Linked DNA regions of Homo sapiens. The protein of the gene in region 2 interacts with the protein of the main gene of each other region in a pairwise test. Each region holds a gene or a part of one and is shown on either strand. Other genes may lie near its edges. The genes, in order: WSB2, CSF3R and WSB1.

Region 1 (11,823 bases), on a different chromosome or scaffold from region 2:
CTGGATGACAGAGCAAGACTCTCTCAAAAAAAAAAAAAAATGTGATTTTTCTCCAAAACCAGTAACTTCTCACTTAACATATGAAACAATAACACTTTGCTCATTATGTTAAATAATAAATATGAAAAAAAATGGTTAATACTCAAATACCTTTTTTCATTTTCCTTAGCTAATAGTGAAAAGATATATTCATCTATACAAATTTATGTTTTGTTCAGAAATAGGATTTAAATTTATGGTTTGTTCAGAAATAGGATTCAGAAAAAAAAATTGTTATTGTTTTCATTTACTGATACCAGTAATTAAAGTAAAGGAGCTTTCCCCAACCGACACATGCTCCACACTAGACCCTGAGCCACCCACAGTGCCCTTAGGGAGATGCAAGCCCAGGCCCTTCCTTCTACCCGGGAGCAGCTCTAGGTCATGTGACAGAAAAAAGACATATTTATCTATACAAATTTGAAAACAAGAGTGATTTTCAGGAAACTGACAGATCTTCCATGTTGTGCTTTTTAAAAAGAGCAGACTATAGAATTTATAATTCATATAGTAAATTTACTTACATGTCAAGTCTAGAAATGAAGGTGCATCCCTTGTATTTCAGGTAGGGAATTAGTAAACAATGTATGACCTTGGCATTATCATTAAACTGACCACAGAAGAAACTGAAAACTCTGATTAAAAACACATAACAAAATTTGATGGCTGCAAAAATATCATATGGAAATGGTAAAATTTTCGTAACCATCCTCTCATCCCTGGATTTCAAACTGTTTCCAATTTTCTTAACATGCAACTAATTTCATGATGAAGATCAGTGTATATAAATAGATGACACCATTTCTGAGATTTTTTTTTTTTTGAGATGGAATCTCGCTCTGTTACCCAGGCTGGAGTGCAGTGGCGCGATCTCAGCTCACTGCAACCTCCGCCTCCCAGGTTCACGCGATTCTCCTACCTCAGCCTCCTGAGTAGCTGGGATTACAGGTGCACACCACCACACCTGGCTAACTTTTTGTATTTTTAATAGAGACAGGGTTTCACCATGTTGGCCAGACTAGTCTCAAACTCCTGACCTCAAGTGATCTGCCTGCCTCGGCCTCCCAAAGTGCTGGGATTACAGGCATCAGGTACCGCGCCCAGCCCAGAAGAACATTTTTCAGGTCCTTGATGCATTTTGCCAGGCTTCCTTCCAAAAACTGCACAAATTTATCCCCCTCAACTCTAGCAGCATGCAGAGTACCCATCTCAACAAACTCCTGTCAACATTCCCTCTTATCAAGGCAAGTTTCATATCCAACTTATAAAAACCTTAAATCTAATGTTATTTATAAAAAATGCTTAAAGAAAAATAAATGAAAGCCTCAAGGGCAAGGGCCATGTCTGATTTATCTAACGACTCTCAGTCCCTAACTCAGTGTTACGCAAAGAAACTATGTAACCAAGGCTGGCCAACATAGTAAAACCCCATCTCTACTAAAAATACAAAAAAATTAGCTAGGGGTGGTGGCGCATGCCTGTAATCCCAGCTACTCAGGAGGCTGAGGCAGGAGGGAAGTGGAGGTTGCAGTGAGCCGAGATCGCACCATCGCACTCCAGCCCGGGCGACAGAGCGAGACTCCATCTCAAAAGAAAAAAAAAGAAACTACGCAACCAAGGCTGGCTGAATGAATAAATACAGACATAGAGTTGCCCTGGGACAAATGAAAACATACAGATGCTGGGCCATCTGAATGGGAGCTCACGGCATTCTGACACTGGGGCTTGTCCATCCCAAAGAAAGAAAAACTGGTATTAGAAACTAAACTTGGCCAAGCGCCATGGCTCACACCTGTAATCCCAGCTACTTGGGAGGCTGAGGCGGGAGGATTTCTTGAGGCCAGGAGTTCAAGACCAGCCTAGGCAAGACCCTGTCTCTACAAAAAATTTAAAAGTTGGCTGGGCATGGTGGCGCGCCTGTAGTATCAGGTACTTGGGAGGCTAGGGCAGGAGGATAGCTTGAGACCAGCAGGTTGAGGCTGCAGTGAGCCGTGACTGAGCTACTGCACTCAAGCCTGGACAACAGAGCAAGACCCTCTCTCTCTCTCAAAAAAAATAAATGAATAAAATAAACTTGGTTGATAATAAAAAGACAAAAACGAGCAAAGGCTCTGAGTAGACATTTATCCAAAGAACGTATACAAAGGACCAGTAAGCACCTGAAAAGATGCTCGGCCAGGTGTGGTGGCTCACACCTGTAATCCCAACACTTTGGGAGGCCAAGGCAGGTGGATCACCTGAGGTCAGGAGTTTGAGACCAGCCTGGCCAACATAGTGAAATCTCGTCTCTACTAAAAATACAAAAATTATCTAGGCGTGGTGGTATGTGCCTGTAGTCCCAGCTACTTGGGAGGCTGAGGCAGGAGAATTGCTTGAACCCAGGAGGTGGAGGTTGCAATAAGCTGAGATCATGCCACTGTACTCCAGCCTGAACAACAGAGTGAGACTCTGTCTCAAAAAAAGAAAAAAAAAAAGAAAGAAAGAAAAGACGCTTGACATCCATAGCCATCAAGGAAATGCAAATCGAAACCACTATGAAATGCCACTTCATACCACTAGGATGGCTGCCTGCTAGGATAATAAAAAAAGACAGACAATAACAACGGCTGGATGTAGAGAATCTGGAACCTGAATCCACTGCTGGTGGGAAAGTAAAATGGTGCAGCCACTCTGGAAAACAGTCTGACACCTCCTCAAATAGTTAAACATAGAAAACACAGGTTTTCTATAAATGTTCATAGCAGCACTATTTGTAATAACCAAAACATGAAAACAACCCAATGTCCATCAACTGATAAATGTACGAACAAAATTTGGCATCTCCATATGATGCAATAAAAGGAAATGAAATACTAGTATATGCTAGAATACGGATGAACTGTGAAAACATTATGTAAAATGAAAGGAGCTAGTCAAAAAAGGCTACGTGTTGTATGACTCCATTAATAGGAAATGTCTAGAATAGGCCAATCTAGAGAGACAAAGTAGATTAGTGGTTGCCTGGAGAGTGCAGGGGGGTTGGGGGATCTAAATTAAGGGGTACAGGGTTTCTTTCTGAGGAAATAAAGATATTCTAAAATTGATTATGTGCCAGGCACAGTGGCTCATGGGAGAAATGTGTAATCCCAGCACTTCGGGAGGCCGAGGTGGGTGAATCACTTGAGGTCAGGAGTTTGAGACCAGCCTGGCCAACATGGCGAAACCTCGTCTCTACTAATAATACAAAACTTAGCCAGGCGTGGTGGTGTGTGCCTGTAATCCCAGCTACTCAGGAGGCTGAGGCAGGAGAATCGCTTGAACCCAGGAGGCAGAGGTTGTAGTGAGCCAAGATTGCGCCATTGCACTCCAGCCTAGGAGACAGAGGGAGACTGTCTCAAAAAATAAATAAATAAAGTAAGACTGATGATGGTGATGGATGCACAACTCTGTGGATAGACTAAAAGCCACTGTATTGTATACTTAAATGGACAAACTGTGTGGTATATAAATTACATCTCAATAAAGCTATGGGAAAAAAAGCCAACTTGGGGCTAACATAATCTTGACAGAATTGACTTTCACATATACAGAACTTGGGGCTCTGGAAACCCCCATGATCAATTCCTGAACCATGAGCCACCTTCCCTCTCTCTGGTTCTTGGGCACAGAGATGGCAAAAGAACAAGGAGTGTTTGGAAATGCGCCGGATGGGGCCCCAGTACGAGAATACTTACAACTGCTCCTCCAACGGCCAGGGGATCAGTTTGACGATGCAGTGTCCTTGAGACCAAGCAAACCAGGAGCCATCTGGGGAGAAGGCGACGCTCCAGGTTTCACAGCTGGACTTCCAATCAAACTGGTGGGGGCGCCCGGGCTTGAGTTCGGCCAGCAGCAGCGGTTCCTCTGGGGCAGGAGACAACATGCTTCAAACACACACCCCCTTGCTCCCTGACCACCCAGACACAGGAAAGCCACTGTCTCCCTGTGGCAAAGAGCCACACTATCCATTCCCAGAGGGAGTTGTCACTTAAATGACCCAGGGCAATAACAGCAGCCACAGGCCACATTCCACCACGGTTACTCAATCCTGGCACTCCTCACTGCTGGTTAACCATGACTCACAGTAACCTTTGTGCCCATGAACCCAGTGAATGGAGGCCTCATTTTCCTATGAATACTTGAAGGGGAGGAAAGTGGAGAGACAGCCAGACCAGGAATATGCTAGACGGTGCTGATTATGGGGCCAAAATAGCAAGGCCTTCCAATGCATTTCAGGTTTCTTCAGAAGAACCTGCTGCTGTCAAAGAAGGAATATGTGAAACTCAAAGGCTCCCTCTCACTCGCCTGCATCCTCCCCATCATCAAGGCTAAAAACGTTCAGCCCTTGCCCTGCTTCCTCACACTCAGAAGTATGGATTCCATCTCCCCATCTCTCCCGCTTCCACGTCCTCTGTCTGGGGTTAAACCTTCATCTCATCTCACCCAGATCTTTTGCTACAGTCTCCTGATCAGTCTTCCTACCCCTAGAGATGCTGCTAAAGCTGAAATACCCACACATCACATCATTTCTTTCAAATACATTAGAAAGCTCCCGCCTGCCTACATCATAAAGGCAACTGAGACCAGGACTTTCACCACATGCCATCTGCCCCAGCCCATCGGTCCAACCTCCTTCCCTTGTCCCCTCCCTGCAGGCCACACTCTGGCCACAAAATCTCCTTGACATGCAAGGGGCTTATTTACGTTCACACCTGGACCCACTTTTGCTTATGAGAATCCCTAGCTTCTCAAAGTAACAAGAAAGAAAGAAAAAAGTAATAATCCCACCTAGATTCACAACTAAGAAGCGTACCCTGATCTCACACTATCAAAACGGAAATAAGTCGCACCTTGTTTATTTCATTCTCTCTTATGTAACCAATTTCTCTCTGCCCCCCGCCCTCGTCATCAGTGTCTAAGCACCTTGTTCCAACACCCAGATCATTTTGTCTTTGTTTCTCCCAGGACCTAGCACACCATCTTGTGAAAGAGTAGGCACCAGATTGGAGCTTCTTCATTGACTGACCCACAGTTCCTAGTTCAGTTCTCTACTCTGATGGAAGATTCTCATGGCTGATGAAGCTTATAAGTTAAAGGCCTTCAGAATGAATTTTTTGACCATTATGACTGTGATACTTACTAATATAAAAACTGGCTTCCATCCTGAATAAGGTCACTTCCTGATGTGTCCATTCCACACAAGGAATGTGGAATGTGGAAGACTTTGACCCTGGCTGTTACCAGATAGATATTCATTTTTAAAACCCGTATTTCATATATTTTAAGACACATCTTTATATATCTTACATTTTGACCTCGCTGAAATCAGGATGTATCTTATAATCAATGACTTTTCATAGTTAAATAGGTAGTATTTTTTTCTCAGTTATACATGATGATAATACAATCCATGGTATCTTGGATTCAATAAAACAGATGGTAGAGATGCATATGTGTATATTTATAAAATATTTTTGCCAGGTGCAGTGGCTCACATCTGTAATCCCAGCACTTTGGGAGGCCAAGGCAGGCAGATCACTTGAGGACAGGAGTTTAAGACCAGCCTGGCAAACATGGTGAAACCATGTCTCTACTAAAAATCCAAAAAAAAAAAAAAAAAAAAAAAATTAGCCAGACATGGTGGCGGGCACCTGCAGTCCCAGCTACTCGGGAAGCTGAAGCAGGAGAAGCACTTGAACCCAGGAGGCGGAGGTTACAGTGAGCCGAGATCGTGCCACTGCACTCCAGCCTGGGTGACAGAGCGAGACTCTGTCTCAAAAAAAAATTGGCTCATGCCTGTAATCCCAGCACTTTGTGAGGCCAAGGCGGGCAGATCACCTGAGGTCGGGAGTTCGAGACCAGCCTGACCAACATGGAGAAACCCCATCTCTACTAAAAATACAAAATAAGCCGGGCTTGGTGGCGCATGCCTGTAATCCCAGCTACTCAGAGGGCTGAGGCAGGAGAATCGCTTGAACCCGGGAGGCGGAAGGCAGAGGTTGCGGTGAGCTGAGATGGTGTCATTGCACTCCAGCCTGGGCAACAAGAGTGAAACTCTGTCTCAAAAAATAATAATAATAATAATAATAATAATAATAATTCTAGTATATGCATTTATAGGAAAATAATAACATAGGTATATCTTGTTATATAAAATAGGTGTGTGTTCCTGAAGTTTCTGTCTTTAAATAGAATGTTAATAAATCATATCAAGCCTTTGTAAAGAGACTATTCATTCTCAGAGGTTCTATGTGTAAATTTGGGTTTAATGTATTAGGTCTAGGCCAGGCACGGTGGCTCACGCCTATAATCCTAGCACTTTGGTAGGCCGAGATGGGATGATAGCTTGAGGCCAGGAGTTCAAGACCAGCCTGGTCAACATGGTAAGACTCCATCTCTTTAAAAAAAAAAAAAAAGAAAAAAGAAAGAAATATATTTTTATATATATGGTCTGAGTAAATAGCTATTTGTATAGACCCAGGTAAATCCTCCTAGAAATCTGTATGTTTGTATGTGTGACAGTTTCATTTATACAATCACATGTGTATAGCTATTTCTATAGACCCAGGGTTCTCAACTGGGGGCTAGTTTGCCCCTTAAGGACATTTGGCAGTAACATTTTTGGTTGTCACAACTGGAGTTGCTACTACTGCCATCTAGTGGGTGGAGGCCAGGGATGCTGCTCAACACTCTACAGCGCACAGGACAGCCCCCAGCAAAGAATCATCTGGCCCAAAATGTCAACAATGCCAAGGCTGAGAAACCCAGATGCAGTCAAGTATTAAATGACATTGACTGATCTAGAGAAACATTTTCAAATGACCTGGATGGCCTGGGGTAGTGGCTCATGCCTGTAATCCCAGTGCTCTGGGAGGCAGAGGTGGAAGAATTGCTTGAGACCAGGAATTCCGGATCAAATGACCAGGATGAAAATGTCTTTTTTTTTTCCATCCTGATAACATTCACAATTGGTTCACTTCCTCTACATTATCCTTTTTTTTTTTTTTTTTTTTTTTTTGAGATGGAGTCTCACTCTGTCACCCAGGCTGGACTGCAATGGCACAATCTCGGCTCACTGCAACCTCGGCCTCCTGGGTTCAAGAAATTCTTATGCCTCAGCCTTCCAAGAAGCTGGGATTACAGGCGTGCACCACCACACCCAGCTAATTTTTGTATTTTTAGTAGAGACAGGTTTTTGCTATCTTGGCCAGGCTGGTCTCAAACTCCTAGACTGAAGCAATCCGCCCACCTCGGACTCCCAAAGTGCTGGGATTACAGGTGTAAACCACCACGTCTGTTTTTTTTTTTTTAAATCTCCCAAACCAAATCCATTAGCAAGTTCTATCAAGTCTGTTTACAAAAGACTTGCCAAATCTAACCCCTCTCCATCTCTACTCTCATCTATGCAGCATCATCTCCCGCCTGGCCCAGTAGGCAACCTTCCAGCTGCTCTCCCGGCTTCCCCTCTAGCCCCGCACCATCGGTTCTCCTTGCCTCCAGAGTGGTCAGTTTCAAACACTGTTAGAATAAAACTCTAGCTCCTCACCCTGCCCTCAAAATCCAGCATAATCTGAACTTCCCTGGGCTTGTACTTCTCTCCCTGCCCCTGGCTCCAACACATTGCCCTTCTCTCTACCCTCTGCCAATGCTCAATTAGTTCTGACCCTAGGCCTTTGCACCAACCATGCCCTTCACCTGGAATGCCTCTCCTCGGCTGGCATCTACTCTTATTCAGGTCTGGCTCAAATGACAACTGCTTAGAGAACTCTTCTGACCCCTAGTCAATCTCCTTCACAACCCCTCACTTTATTTTCTTTACAGCTCTATCACCATTTGATCGCCATCTGTCTCCCCTCCACTAGGATATCAACTCCAGGGAGCAAGAACTTTGTATATTTATCCCCAGAGCTGGCAGAGTTCCTGGTGGAGGGCAGGCAGTGAGTAAATATTTGTCTAATAAATACATATGGTATAACTCTTTAAACAAAAAAGTAACATAAAGCTGGCCAGGCATGGTAGCTCATGCTTGTAATCCCAACACTTTGGGAGGCCGAGGCAGGCAGGTCACTTGGGGCCAGGAGTTCAAGACCAGCCTGGCCAACGTGGTGAAACCCCGTCTCTACTTAAAATACAAAAATTAGCCGGGCATAGTGGCGGGCGCCTGTAGTCGCAGCTACTCGGGAGGCTGAGGCAGGAGAATCACTTGAACCCGGGAGGTGCAGGTTGCAGTGAGCCAAGATTGCACCACTGTACTCCAGCCTGGGTGACAGAGCAAGACTCTGTCCCCAAAAAATAAAAAATAAATAAAGCCCCTTAAACTCTGATGATGCTTATGCCAAACATTTCACATGAAATGCTTCTTAAACACAAGCCCTACTCAGAATTCACACTCTATTTCTGTGATTTAGGGATTTAATCTCTTGCTATTTCAGGTTCAGGAATCCAGGAGCTAAAAGAAGAACAAACCCAGTGACTCCTGTCTCTTGGAGTCTGGGCCCAAACTAAACTTGGCTACACGGAGAGAAAGCCCTAATTAGTGCAGAACTTAAAAACAAAACAAACAAACAAAAACAGAGCTGGGGGTGGGGTATCTAGCTTCAACTGGTATGGTACTTGTAGATCCTTCTTGGTGAAAAGGCCTATGAATCAGGGTTTCTTTGTTTTCTCCTTTTTTTTTTGAGACAGAGTCTCACTCTGCTGCCCAGGCTGGAGTGCAGTGGCGCCATCTCGGCTCATTGCAACCTCCGCCCCCTGGGTTCAAGTGATTCTCCTGCCTCAGCCTCCCGAGTAGCTAGAATTACAGGCATGCGCCACCACACCTGGCTAATTTTTGTATTTTTAGTAGAGATGGGGTTTCACCATTTTGGCCAGGCTGGTCTCGAACTCCTGACCTCAGGTGATCTGCCCACCTCGGCCTCCCAAAGTGCTGGGATTGCAGGCGTGAGTCACCGCGTCCAGCCTCTTCTTTTTTAAACTGATAAATAAAAATTGTATATATTATGGAATATAACATGTTTTGATATATGTATACATTGTGGAATGGCTCAGTCAAGCTCATTACCATATATGCATTACCTCACATACTTATTTTTGTGTGGTGAGAACACTTAAAATCTACTCTTAGCAAATTTCAAGTATATCATATTCATATATATATTTGGGTTTTTTTTTTTTTTGAGACCCAGGCTGGGGTGCAGTGGCTGAATCACAGCTCACTGCAGCCTCAATCTCCCACCCAGATTCAAGTGATCCTCCCGCCTCAGCCTCCTGTGTATCGGGCTACGGGGGCGTACCACCACACTCAGCATTTTTTTTTTTTTTAAATTAAATTTTTAGTAGAGATGGGGGTCTGGCTATGTTGACCAAGCTGGTTTTGATCTCCTGAGCTCAAGCGATTCTCCTGCAGGCATGAGCCATTGCACCTGGCCCTGGATCAGGGTGTTCTAATTAAACAATGGGATGTGTTTGGACAATCAGGCTGAATGGAAAGGTATATATTATAAGCCTCTTCTAGGCAAAGCAGTTAGCCTTAACACAGAGATGAAAGCTATGACCCCAGCCAGCAGGAAGCTAGGTGATTTTTCCTGTATCAGGACATGTACATTAGATATTCCACCGGCCTCAAAAGCTTTCCTCAGTTGCTCCATCTTATCATTCAGGGATTGGTCCTCATGTCACCTTCTCAGAGACCATCCTGGCCTCACTATCTAAAGCGACCATACACTTTCCTTTTTTATTTTTTATTTTTTTTGAGACAGGGTCTTGCTCTGTTGCCCAGGCTGGAATGCAGTAGCACCATCACGGCTCACTGCAACCTCGACCTCCCCAGGCTCAGATGATCCTCCCATCTCAGCCTCCCCAGTAGCTGGGACTACAGGCACATTCTACCATGCACGCGCCTATAGTTCGGTATTTTTTGCAGAGATGGGGTTTTGCCATGCTGCCTAGACTGGTCTCAAACTCCTGAGCTCAAGTGATCTACCCAAGTTGGCCTCCCAAACTGCTGGGCCACTGCGCCTGGCACCATTCACTTTCCTTTAACCATTTGATTTTCTTTATAACCATCACTTAGATATTTTCTTCTTCTTTTTTTTTTTTTGAGATGGAGTTTCACTCTTGTTGCCCAGGCTGGAGTGCAATGGCGAGATCTTGGTTCACTGCAACCTCCACCTCTCCAGTTCAAGCGGTTCTCCTGCCTCAGCCTCCTGAGTAGCTGGGATTACAGGTATGCACCACCACGCCTGGTTAATTTTGTATTTTTAGTAGAGACGGAGTTTCATTATGTTGGTGAGGCTGGTCTCGAACTCCTGGCCTCAAGTGATCTGCCCGCCTCAGCCTCCCAAAGTGCTGAGATTACAGACGTGAGCCACCCCGGCGCATTTGGTTGATATTTTCTTGATTGCCTGTCATTTTTACGTATTTATTGTCTGTCTCTTTCTGAACCCACCCAAACTTGCCAGTTCACTGCTATTGGGCTACACTGTCTAATAGGGAAATCACATGTGGTTACCAACCACTTGAAATGTGGCAAGTCAGAATTCAGATGGGCTGTAAGTAAAAAATACACAACACGTTTTGAACACTTAGCACAAAAAAAAATCTAAAACATTACATTACAATTTATTTGATTACATGTAGCAGGAATATTTTAGACATGTTGTATTGAAAGAGTTTTTAAATTGTCACCTAGTTCTTTTTTCTTTTTTTTAATGTGGCTACTTGAACATTTTAAATTACATACGTGGCTCACATTAGACTTCTGTTGGTCGGGGCTGGCCTAGAGGGTGCCTGGCACATAGTAGACGTTCAACAAATATTTGCTGAATGAATAAGTGAAGTCTAACCATTGCTCTGAAGATTTCAACTGTTGCCCATTGTATTTCCTTTACAATGGGCTTTATTCCATTTGAAAATAAGTTAAAACTCTGGCCTTTTTTGTACAGTAACTTGGCAGCTCTCAACAACCCTGCCCACACCCTCAAAACGAAGTTGTCAATCTTTAGGAAAACCCCAGAACTGGAAACAGATTTCTGTTAAAAAGGCAGGCTAGCTACAGATTGCTTTCAGATTGAACTGTAAGGAGGCAATGGAAATCAAACGGAAGCTATAAAAAGATTCACATAGGATCTACACAAACAGTAGGGGCCCTTTTAAAAAGAATTCTACGGGTAACACTCACTGAAAAGAAAGCCCTTATCTAGATGGGAAGGAGAGAGAGCTGCCTTTAACTCAATGCCTGACTTCAGCAAACAAAGAAATGTCATTTCCTAAATTAAAAAGTAACACCACCCCAGGGAATACCCAGATTTCAACCTTCCCACCCACAGTAACAAGCCATCAGCAATCAGAACCCTCCAGACCAGGATGAAGCTTGAACTTGGCTGCAAGATTACCATGAAGTTCTGGAACAAATTCTGAGCCCTAGGCCTTGAACCTGCTCTGAAAATTTCTCCTAAGGAAATTACATTTAAACTCGGGTCCTTCAAGACCTGGGACTCCCGGAATCAATTCTAAATCTATCCCAAGTGGGGTTCCGAGGGAAGGTCGTTGGAGGGGAGAGGGCCAAGGCGTGCATGCGTCTTGGGGTTTTTTTCCCCTTGCATAAGAGACACACCTTTCCCACTGAGATTTTATGTTCATCTGGGCTGGCTTGAGGTATATCCAATATCCTCTGACTTCCACGCTGTCTTCTGATGGGGATGGCAGTTAACAAGAATAGAGGCAAGGTCCCCACCCATCAGTGTATCCTAAATTTGCCTGATCATA
Region 2 (10,033 bases):
CGGTAACAGACGCTTCCCGGGCTCCAGGCCTCCGAGTGCCCCCCCCCCGCCCACTCTCTGGGTCGGCGTACATTGGGCCCTTTTTCTCTGTCTCTCGATATCTCTCTGGCCTCAATCGTCCTCTTGGCGAGTCTCTCTGTCGTTTCAGTCTGTGTGGATTTCAGTCACCGCCTCACTCTGTCACTCTTCCTGTTGCTCTCTCTTTTTCTTTATCTGCAGCATATCTGGAAATGCCTCTCCCCTCTGTTTATTCCCAGCCCCCTCCTCCCTCCCCACCCTTCCCACAGAAAGAATCTCGAGGTGAGAGTAGAAACAGCAAGGGAGCGAGGGGTGTGAAGTGGGGAAGAGAGTGTGAGGGGAGAGGGCTGAGCGTGATGAGGGAGAAACAGAAAGAGGGAATGTGAAGGCAGCCAGCCCAGGAGACATCGAGCTGTGCTGGGCCACAGGAGTGAGCACCTGCAGAGCCCAGCAGAGATGGCCGCAGTGACAGGAGGGCCAGGGGGCCCAGGAGTTAGGAGGAGAGGATCCAGAAAGGGGGCTTTGGAACTGCGCAGTGTGGCACAGACAAAAGCAAGGTGGCAGTCCTGGGAGGTGTGACCACACAGGCTGTGAGGGAGGCAGGGGTGAGGGGAAAACTGAACTGTGCTGGATTCTGTGAGCTGCTGACCTGCTATTTATGGCTCGTGAAAATAACCTATGGTTGCTGAGTGCCAACTCCATGCAAGGCACAGGGCTAAATGCCTTTACCAAAATAATCTCATTTCATCCTCACAACAACGCTGAGGAGTGAGTGCTAATGTTATTTCTTTCCCACAGATGGGGAAACTGAGGCTCGGCTCGGAAAGGTGAAGTAACTTGTCCAAGATCACAAAGCTGGTAAGTGGCGGAGCTGGAGATCAAGTCAGGTGACCTGAATCTGAGCTGGGCTCCAAACCTCTCTGCATATCGGCCCCCCAGAGAGTGAGACCATGCTCCAACAGGTCCTAGGCCCACTTAACCAGGCTGGGGGACGTCCAGGGCTGCAGTGGAGGACCAGAGACTGAGGCCAAGCAGGCCAACACCCAGCACCCAGGGGAAGGATGCCGGGGCCTCTTGGGGTTAGGTTGTCTACTCTGGACAGGAGCCAGTGGAGGCGGATAGGGTGGTACTGCACGGGGCATAGGCTGGGCCTGAAGCTGACCCTGGCTAGGGCAACAGGGCTGGGATAGGATCAAAAGCACATGGAGATGAAAACCAGTGTCCCAAAATCTGGGCCTTGGAGGCTAAATCTTCCCCAACCAGTGTTGCGGGGGGATAATCAAACTGGTATGCTATAGTAAGAAGGTTACCAACCACCGATGGGTAGACAGATGCTCGGGATACTTGTACAGGTTTCTCACTGCACAAAACTGAGGAGTAACTGGAGCCGAAATCCAGGCTGTTCCCTAGTTGCCAGGTCCTAGTGTGGTGCTGCATCCATCCAGAGGAAGGGGTGCTTTCTTTCTGATTTGCACAAAGGAGACTTACGGGCTAGCAGTCACTGGGTATTCCGATACTGCAATATATACATGGATAGACTGGGGGTTTGGGTAAGACCCCTGTGAGCAGTAACAACCTTGGGTATCTGGGCAGTTCTTATCCACACCTCTGTCTGGGAGGAAGAGAAAAGGATTCTCCTACCTTTCTCCCTGCTGAGCACGAGGGATCTGCTGGGACACCACCTGCGTGTATGTGTCCAGATATGTACGTGCAAGCTGACCAGCGATTCCCACTGATCTGCCACCAAGAGCACCAACTCGTGCTGGAGGATCAGGTGTTGGCTCCAAGACCCCAATGGGAGCAGGGTGAAGATGAGGCTGGACACCCACCCAAGTGGTAGAAACCTCTGCATACTTCCTAAGACTGGAGCCAAGGCACCCTCCATCCAGGTGCTATGGCCGTGACCTCATGATGCCTGACCCCAGAAGGCCACCAGAGGTCTGTGCCCAAAATTGGGGGCACACTGGACCCTTCGGGTGCCCCACTTGATATTCTCTCAGCCCACATGGCTGAGGCAGCCAGCTTCCTGCAGGCATAACCTGACAGCCCCTTGCCTCAGCTGCTCCATAGAGTTCTCCCTTTCTTCCAGGGAGTGTCCCTGACAACACTGGCATGGCTTCCCCAGGAGAACCTGCCTAGTACTCATGCATGCCCAACCTGGATGTGCCAGGGAATGAACACCCCAAGAGGCATCCCTTGACCAATGGGGGGCAGGAGTCAGTGGGTAAATCTTTCCATCTTCCCTCCCATCCAAGGGATAAATTGACCCTCCAGTGGACAGCTCTGAGAAGTGTTCTACATGGCTCTTTGGAAGGTTCCAGCAGGATAGAGCCCCAGTTGTCCATAGAGGTGACCAACATGATGATGTAACTTTGTGCTGGCTTTCTCTCCTTCCCTGTTTCATTCTCCCCAGTCCCTTATCTGCTGCTAGGATCTTCTCAAAATAAACTACCAGCATGCAATTCCTCATCTCAGGTTCTGCTCTCTAGGGGTAGCCTAGCTTAGATAGCTGGGAAGGCGGAAGAATGCTCTTCCTCACTGCTCCTTTCCCTGCTCTTTCCTGGAAGGCAAGTATAATAACTGTGGCTGTCACTGTCATTTCCTATGTTCCAGGCACTGTGAAAAGCCCTTGACTTGCATCATTTTGTGTCTTCCTCTCAAAGTCCCATGCAGTATAGGCTGCTGTTACTTCCATTTTGCAAAGAAACGAAGGCTCAGAGAAGTCAAGCAACCTAGTCAAAGCTGCACAGTGACAGACAAGGATTAAGATCAGCTCTGACTCCAAAGCCCATGGTCTTAAACAACCCTTCTGCCTACAGGTGAACATCAAGTTGGTGCTATGGCAAGGCTGGGAAACTGCAGCCTGACTTGGGCTGCCCTGATCATCCTGCTGCTCCCCGGAAGTGAGTATGGCCAAGGATGAGGGTGCAGTGGGGAGGGGAAGCTACAAGGAGAGATATTGGGAATTTCCTTGCACTGCCACATGGCTCCTGGGATTCCCAGAGAATCCCACAAGATTCAAGTCTGAGCCACAGATGTGGGGTAGCTGGTCTCCCACCCACAGACTTCCACAGGCAAACCACCACCCAAGAGGAATGGTGAGACGACCCGGGCTGGTCATCCTGGAAAAGGCCAGTGAGGCGCAGATCTTGTCCGCAAATCTCTACCAAGCTGTCAGAAGCAACCCATGGGTCCTATGCAGCCTTGGTGGGCAGCAAAGGGATCAGGATGGAAGCTACAAGGGGACAGGTTTCATCCTGAAATAAAGAAGCCCAGGCAGAGCTTGGTTTCCAACCATGGAAACTCTGTCTTGAGAGGTAGAGAACTTCCCATCCCCAGGGGTATGCAAGCTAAAGCCAGGATTGATAAAGATGCTGTGCAGCAGGGGTTGGCAAACTTTTTCTGACAGTAATGTTTAGGCTTTGCAGGCCACATACTGTCTCTGTTCCTTGTTTGTTTGTTTGTTTGTTTGTTTGTTCGTTTGTGAGACAGGGTCTCCCTCTGTTGCCCAGGCTGGAGTGCAGTGGCACAATCGCAGCTCACTGCAGCCTCAACCTCCTGGGCTCAAGTGATCCTCCCGCCTCAGCCTCCAAGGTAGTGCAGGGCATGCCACCACACCCAGCTAATTTTTTTTTGTTGTTGTATTTTTTTGTAGAGATGTAGTTTTGCCATGTTGCCCAGGCTGGTCTCAAACTCCTGGGTTCCAGCAATCCACCTGCCCTGACCTCCCAAAGTATGGGGATTACAAGCATGACCCGCCACGCCCTGCCTATTGCATGTTTTTTGGTTTTTGTTTTTTTGTTTTTTGAGATGGAGTCTCACTCTCTTGCCCAGGCTGAAGTACAGTAGCGGGATCTCAGCTCACTGCAACCTCCGCCTGCCGGGTTCAAGCGATTCTCCTGCCTCAGCCTCCCGAATAGCTGGGATTACAGGCACCTGCCACCAGGCCCTGCAAATTTTTGTATTTTTACTAGAGATGGGGTTTCACCATGTTGGCCAGGCTGGTCTCAAACTCCTGACGTCAGGTGATCCACTCACCTCGGCCTCCCAAAGTGCTGGGATTACAGGCATGAACCACCGCGCCCAGCCCTGTGGCATGTTTTTATTTGGTTTTTGCTTTGCTTGTTTTTAACTCTTTTAAAATGTAAGAAACATCTTTAGTTGTTAGGCTATACAAAAATAGGCCACTCAAGCCCTGCTGTAGAGGGCAGAGCATCAGGTAGAGTTTTGAAGCAAACAACCTTGTAAAGTTTCTTCCAGCCTGAAATCCTGAGTCTGGGCCGGGCGCGGTGGCTCACGCCTGTAATCCCAGCACTTTGGGAGGCCTAGGCGGGTGGATCACAAGGTCAGGAGATCGAGACCATCCTGGTGAACACAGTGAAACCCTGTATCTACTAAAAATACAAAAAATTAGCCGGGCATGGTGCCGGGTGCCTGTAGTCCTAGCTACTCGGGAGGCTGAGGCAGGACAATGGCGTGAGCCCAGCAGGCGGCGCTTGCAGTAAGCCGAGATCACGCCACTGCACTCCAGCCTGGGCAGCAGAGTGACTCCGTCTCAAAAAAAAAAAAGAAATCCTGAGCCTGTGAAGCAGTAGAAGCCCTTTGTTGAGAATCATGAACTTGCTCTGTGACCCTGGGCAAACTGCTTCTCCTCTTAGGGCCTTCGCATCCCCATCAGTAAAACGGGCCTAAGAACACCTGAGAGAGGACAGAAAGCATTGCGGGCAAAGTGTATGTTGATTTGTTTGTTTATTTATTTATCAAAAAAAATTCATCGGCCGGGCGCAGTGGCTCATGCCTGTCATCCTAGCACTTTGGGAGGCTGAGGCGGGTGGATCACGAGGTCAGGAGATCGAGACCAGCCTGCCAGCATGGTGAAAACCCATCTCTACTAAAAATACAAAAAAAAATTAGCCGGGCATGGTGGTGCGTGCCTGTAGCCCCAGCTTTTCGGGAGGCTGAGGCAGGAGAATCGCTTGAACCTGGGAGGCGGAGGTTGCAGTGAGCCGAGATTGTGCCACAGCACTCCAGCCTGGGTGACAGAGCGAAACTCCTTCTCAAAATAATAATAATAATAAATATTCACCAAGGTCCTACTCTGTACTAGGCACTGGGAATACAGTAATAAGCAAACAGCCAAGGTCTGCTGGCCTCACAGAATTTATAGTCTAGCTGGAGTGATAGATAAGTAAATAATCATAAGACTCTATAATTATGAAGGATAATAAGAGCTTTGAGGAAGTACAGGGACCTTGGCCTCCTCCAGTTCGTTAGTGCCTGGTCTGGTTTCTTCAAGATGCCTAAGCGTTAACCAGGTGAAACAGGGGTGGGAGAGAGAAAGAAGAGTCCCTCCAAAAAGAACAGCATGCCGGGCACAGTGGTTCACATCTGTAGTCCCAGCACTTTGGGAGGCTGAAGCAGGAGGATTGCTTGAGCCCAGGAGCTCAAGATTAGCCTAGGCAACATAGTGAAACCCCATCTCTACCAAAAAAAAAAAAAATCAAAAAATTAGCAAGGTGTGCTGGCATGAACCTGTAGTCCCAGCTACTCAGGAGGCTGAGGTGGGAAGATCACTTGAGCCTAGGAGGTCAAGGGTGCACTGAGCCGTGATCGTGCCACTGCACTCCAGCCTGAGTGACAGAGCAAGAACTTGAAGAAAAAAAAGAAAAGAAAAAGAAAACCAAAACAAAACAACAACAACAAAAAAAAAAAAACAGCAGGGACAAAGATCCAGAGATTAGAAAGATTTTGGAGTTTTCAAAGAATAGCAAGAATGAGCCAGAATAGCTGGAGCTGAGAGACCGGTATAAGCTGGAACTGAGAGGGTCAGGCAGGGGCCAGGCCACAGGAGCTATTGAAGGATTTGAGTGTTTATCCTAATGATGGCAGCAAATACTCACATGCCAGACACTGCTCTAAATGCCTTCCATATGTTATCGCATGTAATCCTTCCAGCAACACTAAGGTAGGGACGATTTTTATCCCCATTTTACAGATGAGAAAACTGAGGCACAGGAAGTCTTAGAAATATACCAGGATCATGTAATTAATAAGCAATAGAACCAGAATTTAAACCTAGGCAGTCTAGTTCCAACATCCACACTCATCCATCACACCACACTGCCTTTCAGAGCAATAATGTGCCATTGAAGTGCTGCGATGGAGATGGGGTAGCAGAATCAGATTTGAATTGTGAAAAGATTGCTGTGGCTATGGGTTCTTATCACTCTAATCACTGCTTGCACCATCCTTGGGGAGGGCACTGGGGAGTTAACAGTCTCCATCTGGTGGTGTGCTGGTGCTGGCTTGCAAAAACTAATTGTGCACATCTCTTCCCAACTCCCCGATCAATGATGTCACATCAATAGGCTGAAATCAGCTACAGTGAGAGCACTTACACCGCGGAAAGGCACACACTACAAACCAGGGTCTGCTTTTCTCTGCCAAGCTGGCTGATAAACGGTTACCAGCACATCACTATCTCTGTGTCACCCCCGTAGCCTCTCGAAGTCTCCGTCCCCATCCTTCCATTTCCAGCCCCCATATCTTGAAGGGTGAGACAGGAAGGTGAGGCCTCTGAGTCTAGGAGTACAAAGGCCTAGATTATAGCCCAGCTCTGCTAGGCAGAGGCGTCGTTCCTGGCCCATTCTCTTCCACCCCAGGTCTGGAGGAGTGCGGGCACATCAGTGTCTCAGCCCCCATCGTCCACCTGGGGGATCCCATCACAGCCTCCTGCATCATCAAGCAGAACTGCAGCCATCTGGACCCGGAGCCACAGATTCTGTGGAGACTGGGAGCAGAGCTTCAGCCCGGGGGCAGGCAGCAGCGTCTGTCTGATGGGACCCAGGAATCTATCATCACCCTGCCCCACCTCAACCACACTCAGGCCTTTCTCTCCTGCTGCCTGAACTGGGGCAACAGCCTGCAGATCCTGGACCAGGTTGAGCTGCGCGCAGGCTGTAAGTCCTTCCAGCCATCCAACTACTCTGCCTCCAACACCCTCCTGCCAATACTAATAAGAATATTACCAGCCGGGCACGTTGGCTCACGCCTGTATTCCCAGCACTTTGGGAGGCCGAGGCAGGCGGATCACCTGAGGTCAGGAGTTCATGATCAGCCTGGCCAGCAAGGCGAAACCCCGCCTCTACTAAAAATACAAAAAAATTAGCCAGGCATAGTGGCGGGTGCCTGTAATCCCAGCTACTCGGGGGGCTGAGGCAGGAGAACTGCTCGAACCCAGGAAGCGGAGGTTGCAATGAGCTGAGATCACACCACTGCACTCCAGCCTGGGCAACAAAAGCGAAACTTGGTCTCAAAAAAAAGAAGAAAAAAAAAAAAGAGTACTACCTATTGAGCTCTTATCTAATAAGCACTTTATGGGCATGATATCAGGTAACAGTAGTACCAGTTGGTACTACTATGTAGCCTCACTTTGCAGATGATGAAACTGAGGTTCAGGGAGGGTAAGTGACTTGCCCTTATCACACATTAATAAGGATGGAGGCAGTGTGGCTCTAAAGCCAGTGTTGTGACCACTACTCTACATAGCCCAAGTCCTCAGCCATCTGAGGGTGTCTCCAGGGAGAACATCCTCTACCAGCTGGGCTTGTCCCCCACCCCAGTTTCAAACTTCCTTTCAAACTGAGCAGGATGGAGTTTGTGCCAAGCTGAGGCATAAGGAAAAAACAAAGACCGAGGTTCTTGTTTAAGAATCAGTAATGGGCCAGGTGCAGTGGCTCACACCTGTAATCCCAGCACTTTGGGAGCCTGAGGTAGGTGGATCATTTGAGGTCAGGAGTTTGAGAACAGCCTGGCCAACATGGGGAAACCCCGTCTCTACTAAAAATACAAAAATTAGCCGAGTGAGCCGAGATCACGCCACTGCACTCCAGCCTGGGCCACAGAGTGAGACTCTGTCTCAAAAAAAAAAAAAAAAAAAAAAAAAGCACCAGTAATGGCCACTGCTAACACTTACATAGCATTTCCTGTAAGTTAGGCACTGTTCTGAGCACTTCATGTAGAGTGAGTCATTTAGCCCTTGTGATAACGCTAGGGGGTGGGATTTTACCATTATCCCCATTTTACAGATGAGGATGCTGAGGCATGGAGCAGTTAAATAACTTCAAGATCACAGGGCTAATGAATGGCAGGACCAGGATGAAAACTCAAACACTACACTGTCACTGACAAAGGGTCTAGAGTTGGGGGCCTTGGAAGTGGGCCACCACTGGGCTGCTGGGAGTCTGTGATGCTTGCCCCGGTGCATGCCTGCAACTTAGCTTCCCCCAGGGCTGCCCTTCCAGAGCCACTCTGCCTGGAGACAGGGGGACAGACAAGGTGACAACAGAGGAACCAAGCCAGGGCAAGGCAACAGGGCCAGCTGGTCCCAGAGGAAGCTTTCTGAGTGGTCCCACCCAAAGCCCTCACACTCTTCCCACCCACATGCAGACCCTCCAGCCATACCCCACAACCTCTCCTGCCTCATGAACCTCACAACCAGCAGCCTCATCTGCCAGTGGGAGCCAGGACCTGAGACCCACCTACCCACCAGCTTCACTCTGAAGAGTTTCAAGTGAGGAGGGGCCCCCACCTTGGTCCCCTCCCTTTGGATTCTGGGGTAGGGCATGGGTAGGATGCTGGGCATGCCTCTGGGAGGGAGAAGGGAGCCTCGCTTTCTTCCTCTGCTTGGCACCCAAGCCTGGACTATTGGCAGGAGCCGGGGCAACTGTCAGACCCAAGGGGACTCCATCCTGGACTGCGTGCCCAAGGACGGGCAGAGCCACTGCTGCATCCCACGCAAACACCTGCTGTTGTACCAGAATATGGGCATCTGGGTGCAGGCAGAGAATGCGCTGGGGACCAGCATGTCCCCACAACTGTGTCTTGATCCCATGGATGTTGGTGGGTGATGCAGGGGAGGGAGGGGATCCCCAAAATGGGCAGACACTGAGAGGAATGGAGAGGGAAACACAGAACTAGCGACAGACAAGAAGACACTGGAAGACCTAGAGACAGAGGCACAGAAGAGGGACAGAGACAAAGAAAGGTGCAGCTGGAGACAGAGAAATGGGGACACAGACCCAGAGACAGGAAGAGACACAGAGGCAAAGAGACACATTCAGTCATGCTTTCAGCGTGTTTCCTAAAGCACCCACTACATGTTAGGCACTGCTCTAGGTACTGGGGATACAAAGCATCAAAAATGCCCTCAGAATGTTAGATTCAAGTGGGGGGGAAAATAAGATAGAATTTCAGATAGCAATAAGCAGAAAGGAGAAATTAAAGGAGGAGAAGGGCATAGAGAGAGAGGGGGGAAGGGGAGCACTGGCTATTTTAATATGCTGGTCAAGAAAGGCCTCACTAAGAGGGTGACAATTGAGCAGATCCTTGAAGGAAATGAGGGAGCAAGCCGCTGGATATCTGGAGGGAAAACATTTCAAGCAGAAGTAACAACCAGTGCAAAGGCCCTGGGGCAAGAGCGGAAACAGAGACCTAGAGAGAAACAAAGACACATAGAGATCGAACCACAGAAACGTGTCATTGGCAACGTGGACAGATGGTGAACCACAGACAGGGAGACAAGAGGGAGCTAAGGCAGAGCCCTCTAGGGTGGGATAGGGAGACCTTCTGACAGCCCCACTCCTTGCAGTGAAACTGGAGCCCCCCATGCTGCGGACCATGGACCCCAGCCCTGAAGCGGCCCCTCCCCAGGCAGGCTGCCTACAGCTGTGCTGGGAGCCATGGCAGCCAGGCCTGCACATAAATCAGAAGTGTGAGCTGCGCCACAAGCCGCAGCGTGGAGAAGCCAGCTGGGCACTGGTGAGGCAGAGGGCAACCTGGAGAGCCTGAGGTGGTGGGGGCAGGGGGCAGGGTAAGTCGGGCTCGAGCTGGCCCTAGAATGGCCCAGCGATCCAAGGCTCAGAGTCCTGTCCACCCCTCACCAGGTGGGCCCCCTCCCCTTGGAGGCCCTTCAGTATGAGCTCTGCGGGCTCCTCCCAGCCACGGCCTACACCCT
Region 3 (10,136 bases), on a different chromosome or scaffold from region 2:
TATAAACAACAGAAGTTAACTTCTCACAGTTCTGGATGTTGGAAGTTTGAGATCAGGGTGCAGGTCCTCTTCTCGGTTAGACTGTTGTCTTCTCATTGTATCTTCACATGGTGGAGAGGGAATGAGAGCTTTCTAGGGTTCCTTTCACACGGGCACGAATCCCATTATGAGGACTCCGCCCTCATGACCTAATCACCTCCCAAAGGCCCCACTCCCTAATATCATTACATTGAGGATTAGGATTTCAACGTATTACTGGTGGTGGTGGTGGTGGTCGTGGGGTGTGCATACAACATTCGGTCCATAATATTAACTGTGCTTTTCCTCAGCCATTACTGTGAGATTAATATTGTGAATCATACAACTTACTGGGTTTCCCATTTTGTGTGAGTTTGTTTTTGACACAGAGTCTGGTTCTGTCATGCAGGCTGGAGTGCAGTGGCGCCATCTTGGATCAATGCCAACTTTGCCTCCCAGGTTCAAGCTATTCTCCTGCCTCAGCCTCCTGAGTAGCTGGGACTTACAGGCATGAGCCACCACGCCCAGGTAATTTTTGGGGAGTATTTTTAGTAGAGATGGGGTTTCACCATGTTGGCCAGGCTGGTCTCCAGCTCCTGACCTCAAGTGATCTGCCCACCAGAGTCTCCCAAAGTGCTGGGATTACAGGTGTGAGCCCCTGTGCCCGGCCATTTTGTGTGAGTTTGGTGCCAAAATATTTAGCTCACTTGGTGCAAATGTATGTCTTTTAAGATTTCCATTTAAGGCAGGGCGTGATGGCTCATGCCTGTAATCCCAGCACTTTGGGAGGCTGAGGTGGGTGGATCACCTGAGGTCAGGAATTCCAGACCAGCCTGGCCAACATGGCAGAACCCTGTCTCTACTAAAAAAAAAAAAAATACAGCCGGGCGTGGTGGCTCACGCCTGTAATCCCAGCACTTTGGGAGGCCGACGCAGGCAGATCACGAGGTCAAGAGATCGAGACCATCCTGGCCACCATGGTGAAACCCCACCTCTGCTAAAAATACAAAAATTAGCTGGGCATGGTGGCAGGCACCTGTAGTCCCAGCTACTTGGGAGGCTGAGGCAGGAGAATCGCTTGAACCCAGGAGGCAGAGGTTGCAGTGAGCCGAGAATGTGCCACTGCACTCCAGCCTGGTGACAGGGAGAGACTCCGTCTCAAAATAAATAAATAAATAACCCAGGTGTGGTGGCACGGCCTGTAATCCCTGCTACTCAGGAGGCTGAGACAGGAGAATCTCTTGAACCCGGGAGGCGGAGGTTGTGGTGCGCTGAGCCTGCACCACTGCATTCCAGTCTGGGCAACAGAGCGAGTCTCCGTGTCAAAAAATATATATATATACATATATATATATATTTCTGTTTAATATCAGCCTCATTCTTGGCTTTTTTTTTTTGAGATGGAGTTTCACTCTTGTTGCCCAGGCTGGAGTACAATGGTGCAATCTTGGCTCACCGCAACCTCCGCCTCCCGGGTTCAGGCGATTGTCCTGCCTCAGCCTCCTGAGTAGCTGGGATTACAGACGCATGCCACCATGCTGGGTTAATTTTTTGTATTTTTAGTAGAAACGGGGTTTCACCATGTTAGCCGGCTGGTCTCGAACTCCTGACCTCAGGTGATCTGCCTGCCTTGGCCTCCCAAAGTGCTGGGATTACAGGCGAGGGCCACTGCACCTGGCCTCTTGGATCTATTTTAATCATTATCTTTCTCAGGTATCTCTCTAATGCCCATCATCCTTAATCTATTTTTTATAAGAACATTTCATTATTATTCAACAATTCGGAAGCATAAAACGACCCAGTGGAGTAGCCATTTCATTTCTCTTACTTACTGATCTATACTCGAGCAAGTTTGTCCAACGTGTAGCCCACGGGCCACATGTGGCCCAGGATGGCTTTGAACGTGGCCCAACACAAATTCGTAAACCTTCTTAATAACATTATGAGATTGTTTTTGTAATTCTTTTTTAAGCTCATCAGTTAGTGTATTTTATGTGTGGCCCAAGACAATTCTTCCAATGTAGCCCAAGGAAGCCAAAAGATTGGACACCCCTGTTCTAGATGATTTCTATAGCTCACACTTTACTTTTGGAGAACAATTTTTTCAGAAAGAGCCATTGATGCTTCAGCCTTATTTAAAACCAAACAAACACAAACTCACTATAATGACGGTGACAGGCAACACTGTATTATAGGTTTTCCTAACAAAACCTGTAATACTACTTTCAGACCAGAAGACCAACTGTTATGTGGAACTATAAAGAAAATTCCTTAATCAGTATCTTTAAAACAGAAACCAGAAGGATAATGACAGTAGTCTCTAATAGAGAAAATAGTGCTGGAGTTGATAAAAATTGAATTAAATCATTTTTTCCTTCTCCAATTCCAGCCCTATTCAATCATTTTCTGATTCCTCAACTGTTAAGATAAGCCTAGACTGGTCAGGCACTGTGGCTCATGCCCGTAATCCCAGCACTTTGGGAGGCCAAGATGGGCAGATCACTTGAGGCCAGGAGTTCAAGACGAGCCTGGCCAACATGATGAAACCCTATCTCTACTAAAAATACAAAAATTGGCCCAGCTCACGCCTGTAATCCCAGCTACTCAGGTGGCTTATGCACGAGAACCACTTGAACCAGGGGAGGCAGAGTATGCAGTGAGCTGAGATTGCACCACTGCACTCCAGCTTGGGTGACAGAGCGAGATCCTACCTCAAAGTAAAAAATAAAAGCATACATAATGTCAAAAAACAACCACACAAAGCTACCCCACCCACCTGTAATAAAACAGGTCACTTTATACCTGGCTCAGACCAGATTTTTGCTGGTGGCTAAAGAATGCTTTATGGATCAAAGGGCAGGTTGAGATTGCCTACTTACGTTCATTCCTTCCAAGCATCTTACCATAAACATCTGCCAAGGTTATGACGAGCATGTCACTAGGTTGCATTTTATTAGTTGCTGCCAACAGCTCTTACTTCTGATGGAAAAGAATTTAACAACAACAAAAAAACCCAGTATACTCCAACTTATGCTTTTTCTATGCTTTTATCACCAAATGATAGTACATCCATATATAACTCTAGATATTTGTTTTATAGTCCACACACTTGCTAGTTAAAATGTATTATCATAAGCCACAGTCTGTTCAGAATTACTTGGGTAAAATGCTATGTCACCTACAAACCCTCATCTGATTAATATGGAGGTTGTAATCACTGTCTCAATGGTTTCAGGCTCGTGAAACTTCTCATGCTATTTTCTTACGCCTGTGCTGGCTGGCTGACGGCCAAGTCCTCTGCCTCTGCCACTGCCTCAACCCATAAGCATGCTACAGTGCAGTCCAACCTTTTTTGGTCTTGCCGACCCAAGAGCAGTGTAAACCAGTTGAATCCAACTGCATCACAGTCACAGCAGGCAGGAAATTTCAAGGATCGTTAAGTTTAAGATTTGCCAACCTAAGATCAAGTTATAGGTTTTAAAGTGATTTCATTATCGCAAAAGGATAGCTTGGCTGCTGAGTGTGATTTTCCTATGTTCACATGTACTCCATGGGATTCTAAAACAGAAAATTAAATCTGAACATAAATGATCTGCCAGTTCTCCAAATGACAGGCTTGTGGCAAAATAGGAGAGGCAGTGTCATTTTCAAATCATGTAGCTAGAATCTGATCCAAGTCCATAATCAACGTCTTCCCTATTTTCCTTTGGTCCTTCAGTCTGTTATTACTGTTATTACCTTCTTCCCCACAGACAAATGGAAAATTCAAACATGTTTCTACTTGACATATACGCTGCAATCTTCCTTTCACACTGGCACTCACTATGGTTTTCACGAGAAGAGGTGGCAAACAGGTGAACATCTCACAGAATGTAGCTTCCAAAAATGCTGTTTTGGGCCAGGTTCGGTGGCTCACACCTATAATCCCAGCACTCTGGGAGGCCGAGGCGGGCGGATCACGAGGTCAGGAGTTTGAGACCAGTCTGGCCAACAGTGAAACGCCGTCTGTCCTAAAAATACAACAAAAATTAGCTGGGCGTGGTGGGGGAGCGCCTGTAATCCCAGCTGCTTGGGAGGCTGAGGCAGGAGAATTGCTTGAACCCAGGAGGTGGAGGCTGCAGTGAGCCAAGATCGCACCACTGCACTCCAGCCCAGGTGACAGTGTGAGACTCCGTCTCAAAAAAAATAAAAAATAAAAAATAAAAAAAGCTGTTTTTACTTGACTGGATATGTTGGTGTGGAAAGCAAAAATAATGCAATGATATGAAAAGTAATGGTATCTTATTTATTTAGAGTCTTACTCTGTCACCCAGGCTGGAGTGCAGTTGCGTGATCTCAGCTCACTGCAACCTCCATTTCTCCAGTTCAAGCAATTCTCTTGCCTCAGCCTCCTAAGTAGCTAGGAGTACAGGAACCCACCACCATGCCCAGCTAATTTTTGTAATTTTAGTAGAGACAGGGGTTTCACTATGTTGGTCAGGCTTGTCATGAACTCCCGGCCTTAAGTGACCCACCTGCCTTGGCCTCCCAAAGTGCTGGGATTATAGGTGTGGGCCACTGCGCCCGGCCAGTGTATTTTAAAATTATAAAGCCGATATATTACAAAGTAAAATGCAGGGGAAAAAAAGTCACAAGAAGTATAAAGATTAGATGCTTCTTGTGCTTCTTTTTGTAAAATACAGATGATCCTCAAGAAGTAACTTGAGCAGATTTTCTACTGGCTTTCAAATTGATAACCCTACACCCCCTATAAATTTTTACATTCCTTAACAGAGCTAACCATAGGAACTTCCAAATAATTTCTCAGTGGAAATGAGTCTTCAAAATCACACATGGCTCATAAGAGTTTTGCTTTTTTAATGCCTTCTCAAAGGACCCAGACTGCTAGATTTTCATAATAACTACTTTAACCAGATAGACTTACTATAGGCTGGTAGTTCCCCACTAAAAGATACTTTTCTCTTGCTTAGTAGTCACCTTCCTGTGTTCTAGAGCTTCCCTATGCTTTTAAAATATGCATTATTACAACAGTTCTCCTAAAAACAAAACCACCATAAGAGCTGCTGCACTCGGGGAGCCCTGAATGAATTCTAGAGCAGCGCCTGAGTCCTGCATTCTTTCTTCATTGTCCTTTTTGCTTAATTTGCCTGTGGTGTACCATCAACCTTACAATGGAGACAGAGAGAAAGTACTCCACCTAACCTATTTAAGAAACATTTGCAATATACTGTTTTTTTTTTTTACAAGTCTTTAATTAAAAAACTCAACAAAAATATATAATTGAGCATTTTACATAATGCATACATTCTTAATATCTGCAGGTAAGATAAACAACAGAAGGCAAAAGCAGATATGCTGTATTGCTTCTTTGGCAACTCACCAATATCATCCCCTGCAGAAACAGAGTTTTTTTTTTTTTTTTTAAATCCATGGTCTTAAAATAATTGTCCCTTAGTATAAACAAAATATTTAGCAATAATACAGTAGACGGATTCTTCAAATTCACAACAATTTATAATACTTTATACCACAAGGGTAAACTAGTAAGCTGCTTTCTAAAATTAAGGCAGCAGCAGTGTTTAGAGGGGGAGTAAAAAAAAAAAAAAAGACATCCTTTTTCTAGTTATATCCTGGCTCTGCCTTCTTTGTTGTTGTTTTTAAATAACGTCACATTCAAGCTCTACGTCTTGGATGACATTCCTAAGGATAATAAAATCCTTTTCCCTGTACATAAACTGTGTTTCACTTCCAGATCAGTCTGACACTCTCCAACAAAACCAAATACATTTCGTATGAGGCAACACAATTTTTTTTTTTTTTTGAGATGGAGTCTCGCTCTGTTGTCCAGGTTGGAGTGCAGTGGTGTGATCTTGGCTTACTGCAACCTCCACCTCCTGGGTTCAAGCAATTCTCCTGCCTCAGCCTCCCAAGTAGCTAGGACTACAGGTGTGCACCACCACGCCTGGCTAATTTTTTTTTTTTTTGTATTTTTAGTAGAGACAGGGTTTCATCATGTTTGCCAGGCTAGTCTCAAACTGCTGACCTCAGGTGATTTGCCCGCCTCACCCAATTCAACTTTCGTAAGTCAGTATTTACCATCTAACTCAGTGTCCCAGAATTTAAAATTTCCTTGCACTTTACAGCAAAGATACATATTGTGGCTCTACTGAAGCAATATATACATGTCAGAACTAAAAATCAGAAAAGCAAAAGGGTCCATTCAACATATAGCAGCTTATATCTAAATATGTACAGGTATGTATGTTTTCACAGTTAGATCTTTAAAAAAATTTATATTTGATATGTTCAGAAATACTTCTATTGTCTATAAATAATATTTTAAAAGCTCAACTGATCAAAATGCAGTACAAGAACATATCAAATTAAATAAATCTTCTACGTCTTTAAAAACAGATAATTGAAGTCAGTAAAGCTTGAGGTTTGTGTTAAGTGTATTCTGTCAGTCCCTACTACTAGGGAAGGCAGAATCTTCTAAATACGATACGAGAGAAACTCCAAAAGCTTGGAAGGAATCGGCAGCTCCTGAACTTCTTGGGTGGGCATCACTCTTCGGATTGACATGCGACATAAATGTTGCAGGCTAGGGACCTGCCGTGGAGTGGCCCAAAAATACACACTTCCGTCATGTGTCCTAAACAGAAACAAAGCACATGCTTAGTCACCCAAGTATATGTATTTCAGTGTTGCTACAGCTCAAACAACTATCACCCAATACATGTGAGTAGTGGAGTCACAAACTTCACATTAAAACCCAACCAGGAAGAACTAACCAATGATGTATTCCATGACAAGGTAACACTACTATGAAGAACACTTATTAGAGTTTTACTGACAATAAATTACTAGCTGCTAAAAGCCCCCTTAAATTGGCCCTTAAAGAAAAGAGAAAAATGGGCCAGGTGTGGTGGCTCACGCCTGTAATCCCAGCACTTTGGGAAGTTGAGGCGGGAAGATCACTTGAGGTCAGGGTCAGGAGTTTGAGACCAGCCAGGCGAACATGGTGAAATCCCGACCCTACTGGAAAAACGAACAAACAAATAAATTAGCCAGGACTGGTGGTGTGCACCTGTAGTCCCAGCTACTCGGGAGGCTGAGGCAGGAGAATCTCCTTGAACTGGAAGACGGAGGCTACAGTGAGCAGAGATTGCACCACTGTACTCCAGCCTGGGAGACTACATCTCAAAAAAAAAAAAAAAAAAAAAAAAAAGAGAAAAATATATTTACCCAGCAGCTAAAACACTGCCATCAGTAGAGAAGGCACAGCAAAGACCATTGCTCAAAGGTGCAACTTGCACTGGATAATCCTCATCAATTCTCCAGAACCTCACCATTCTGAAAATGAAATAAATTATTTAGTATCTTGTAGAAAATGTAAGGTAAAAGCAACTTTTTTAAAATTTAGAAAGAAATGCCATTGAGTTATGAGTCACAAAATACACACATCACACCAACAGGCAATTATAATAACTTGCTTTATACAATTACAAAATATTTTAAGGTCTATAATATCAGTTGGTAAATTGGATAAACTTTCACTTAAGAGACTACAATGCATGGCTGCCTTCCCTCCTTCCCAGTGTTCAAACCTAGAATGTTCACACCCGGAAACTTTCTCCTTACTTTCCTACACTTACAATACAATCAACTTCTAGTCTGTTTCACCCTTTTCCCAAGACATTTTTAAAAGCTAGGTGGGCCTGGTAGCTCACAACCATAATCCCACCACTTTGGGAGGCCGAGGTGGGTGGACTGCTTGAGCCCAGGACTTTTAAGACCAGCCTGGGCAACATAGGGAGACCCTGTCTCTACAAAAAATTTTTTAAAAAAACTAGCCAGGTGTGGTGGTATACCCCTGTGGTGTGAGATACTCGGAAGGCTGAGGTGGGAGGATCACCTGAGCCCAGAAAATCAAGGCTGTGGTGAGATGTGATTGCACCACTGCACTATAGCCTGGGCAACAAAGCAAGACCCTGTCTCCAATAAACAAACAAAAAAAACCAGGAAAGGAAAAAAAGCTTTTCACCCAGGCTGAGTGTGTCTACAAATACAGCAGAGAACTAACATGCAGAATCTATCTGAGCAAACAGGAAACAATGGTTGCAGACAAACAAACAAAAAAAACCTCTCTCCATATGTTTGCTAACATTCTGGGAAGAGAAGAGCTGCCTTATGAATTGACGTCACCGAACTACTCAATGCTATATGCATGAACACAGATGGTTGCAACTAGTTTCTGCTTCTTACCAACAAGCAGCACATATCATTCATGTGACATTTCATATTCTAATCTCAATCATGGTGGATACAAATTACTATTTATTTGTAATTCTTTTGGTTTTACTATTTGTTTCACTTTAGAAATTTCCTTCTGCTTCAACCTTTGTTAAGACATTACTTTAAAAAATCTCTGTAAGCTGGGCTAAAAGCTGACTAAAAATCAACCCACTATGCCTAAACAAGTTAAACAAGGAACACAGGGAGAGGCATGCATTATCTTTAGTTTACACAGATAATTGTTCAGGCCGATATTCTTTAAGACACAACAAAATCTCCCAGGGGCTTGTGTTGAGGAAGAGACATTAAAACTCTTAACTGCAGAAAGGCTTTAAGGCTTAAGAATGTAAAAGGTAATAGTAAGTCAGTCAAGCTATAATGCACATACTTACTTATCATCAGCAAGGCTTGCAACATGCAGTCCATCATGGCTAAAAGATACAGATCGTACCCACCGGTCATTTGCTCCTCCAGCAAATATTGGAGTAGGTGGGGGAAACAGGTGCCTGAGGTCAAATATATGTTTTCAGTGGATATCAGTCACTTCAAGAAAACAAAATTACCCAGGTACAAAGTACATCTGTCTTTGAATAGTGTTTAAAGTAGCCTTAATTAATATAACTGAGAAGACTCAGTAGAGATGATACATCCAAATTAAAGTCACCTGAAAAGAACTAATCTTTTATGGTCGGGCGCAGTGGCTCATGCCTGTAATCCCAGCACTTTGGGAGGTTAAGGCAGGTGGATCACGAGATCAAGAGATTGAGACCAGCCTGACCAACATGGTGAAACCCCATCTCTACTAAAAATACAAAAATTAGCCAGGGGTGGTTGCAGGTGCCTGTAAGCCCAGCTACTCAGGAGGCTGAGGCAGGAGAACTGCTTGAACCCAGGAGGTGGAGGTTGCAGTGAGCTGAGATTGCGCCACTGCACTCCAGCCTGGCGACAGAGCAAGACTCTGTCAAAAAAAAAAAAAATCTTTTATGATTTAAGACAGTAAGATTAAGTCCAACTTTGGTTTTAACTGTTTTTCTCCAACAAAAACTCTAAACATAATTAGTACTTCTATAGAGAGCTGGGTACTGTTAAGTAGCAAGACTTGTATCAAGAGAGCCAAATTTACTTTTAGAATTTATATCGAAGGCTTTCCATTAGTCAAGGGCTTAAATAATACCAACATTTTAAATTAGAATAGACTGTAATTTTAGGTTGCATATATTGGTGATTGTAATTATTCACATAACTTGATAGGTGGAGATGAATTATAGACTAAAATAATTCATGCTGTACCCACCCAAATTCCATCAGAATGTCTCCATTATGTGGATCCCAGATATATACTCGAGTATCATAAGATGCAGTAGCCAGTAATGCTCCATCAGGAGAAAAGTCACAAGCTACCACATCATGGTGATGTCCTTCTAGTTTCCGTATCATGGTGTATTTATCCATATTCCAAAGGAAAACCTGCAATAAAAAGGCAAATGTTATAGCTTCATTCAGACATACAGAGGACAAAATGGCACATCTTATACTAAAACTGCTAAATTTAATTAAGATTATATTAAGCATTATAAATTATGAGTAATTTAAAGAATATGCTCAGTGTCATAGTCAGATTAAAATCAGTCTTTAAGTTAATTAAGGCAGACATGCAAATTCTATTTCAAATGTTTCTGTTAAATGTTAATTTAAAAATAAGCCTAAACATAAAATAAAGGCAATGCAATTTAACCACAAAGCTATACTGAAATCCATTTATTCCAAAAACTAATTAACTAAAATATACGGAAATAAATAGGGTTAAGTACTACAAACCCCCT

What was found.
Region 1: the proteins of CSF3R (region 2) and WSB2 interact in a protein complementation assay, tested with the Homo sapiens proteins (one study listed by BioGRID).
Region 3: the proteins of CSF3R (region 2) and WSB1 interact in a protein complementation assay, tested with the Homo sapiens proteins (one study listed by BioGRID).

The regions. Positions count from the first base shown.
Region 1 is NC_000012.12:118,048,558-118,060,380, forward strand, and holds part of WSB2 (WD repeat and SOCS box-containing protein 2), read right to left. Parts: intron 3,922-11,823; coding exon 3,753-3,921; intron 1-3,752. UniProt on the Homo sapiens protein: May be a substrate-recognition component of a SCF-like ECS (Elongin-Cullin-SOCS-box protein) E3 ubiquitin ligase complex which mediates the ubiquitination and subsequent proteasomal degradation of target proteins.
Region 2 is NC_000001.11:36,472,321-36,482,353, reverse strand, and holds part of CSF3R (granulocyte colony-stimulating factor receptor isoform a precursor), read left to right. Parts: intron 1-816; 5' UTR 817-876; intron 877-2,273; exon of another isoform or gene 2,274-2,367; intron 2,368-2,837; 5' UTR 2,838-2,857; coding exon 2,858-2,921; intron 2,922-6,680; coding exon 6,681-6,977; intron 6,978-8,466; coding exon 8,467-8,590; intron 8,591-8,731; coding exon 8,732-8,919; intron 8,920-9,667; coding exon 9,668-9,837; intron 9,838-9,962; coding exon 9,963-10,033. UniProt on the Homo sapiens protein: Receptor for granulocyte colony-stimulating factor (CSF3), essential for granulocytic maturation. Plays a crucial role in the proliferation, differentiation and survival of cells along the neutrophilic lineage.
Region 3 is NC_000017.11:27,308,744-27,318,879, reverse strand, and holds the end of WSB1 (WD repeat and SOCS box-containing protein 1), read right to left. Parts: exon of another isoform or gene 9,781-10,136; coding exon 9,608-9,780; intron 8,820-9,607; coding exon 8,706-8,819; intron 7,372-8,705; coding exon 7,264-7,371; intron 6,671-7,263; coding exon 6,511-6,670; 3' UTR 2,954-6,510; downstream 1-2,953. UniProt on the Homo sapiens protein: Probable substrate-recognition component of a SCF-like ECS (Elongin-Cullin-SOCS-box protein) E3 ubiquitin ligase complex which mediates the ubiquitination and subsequent proteasomal degradation of target proteins.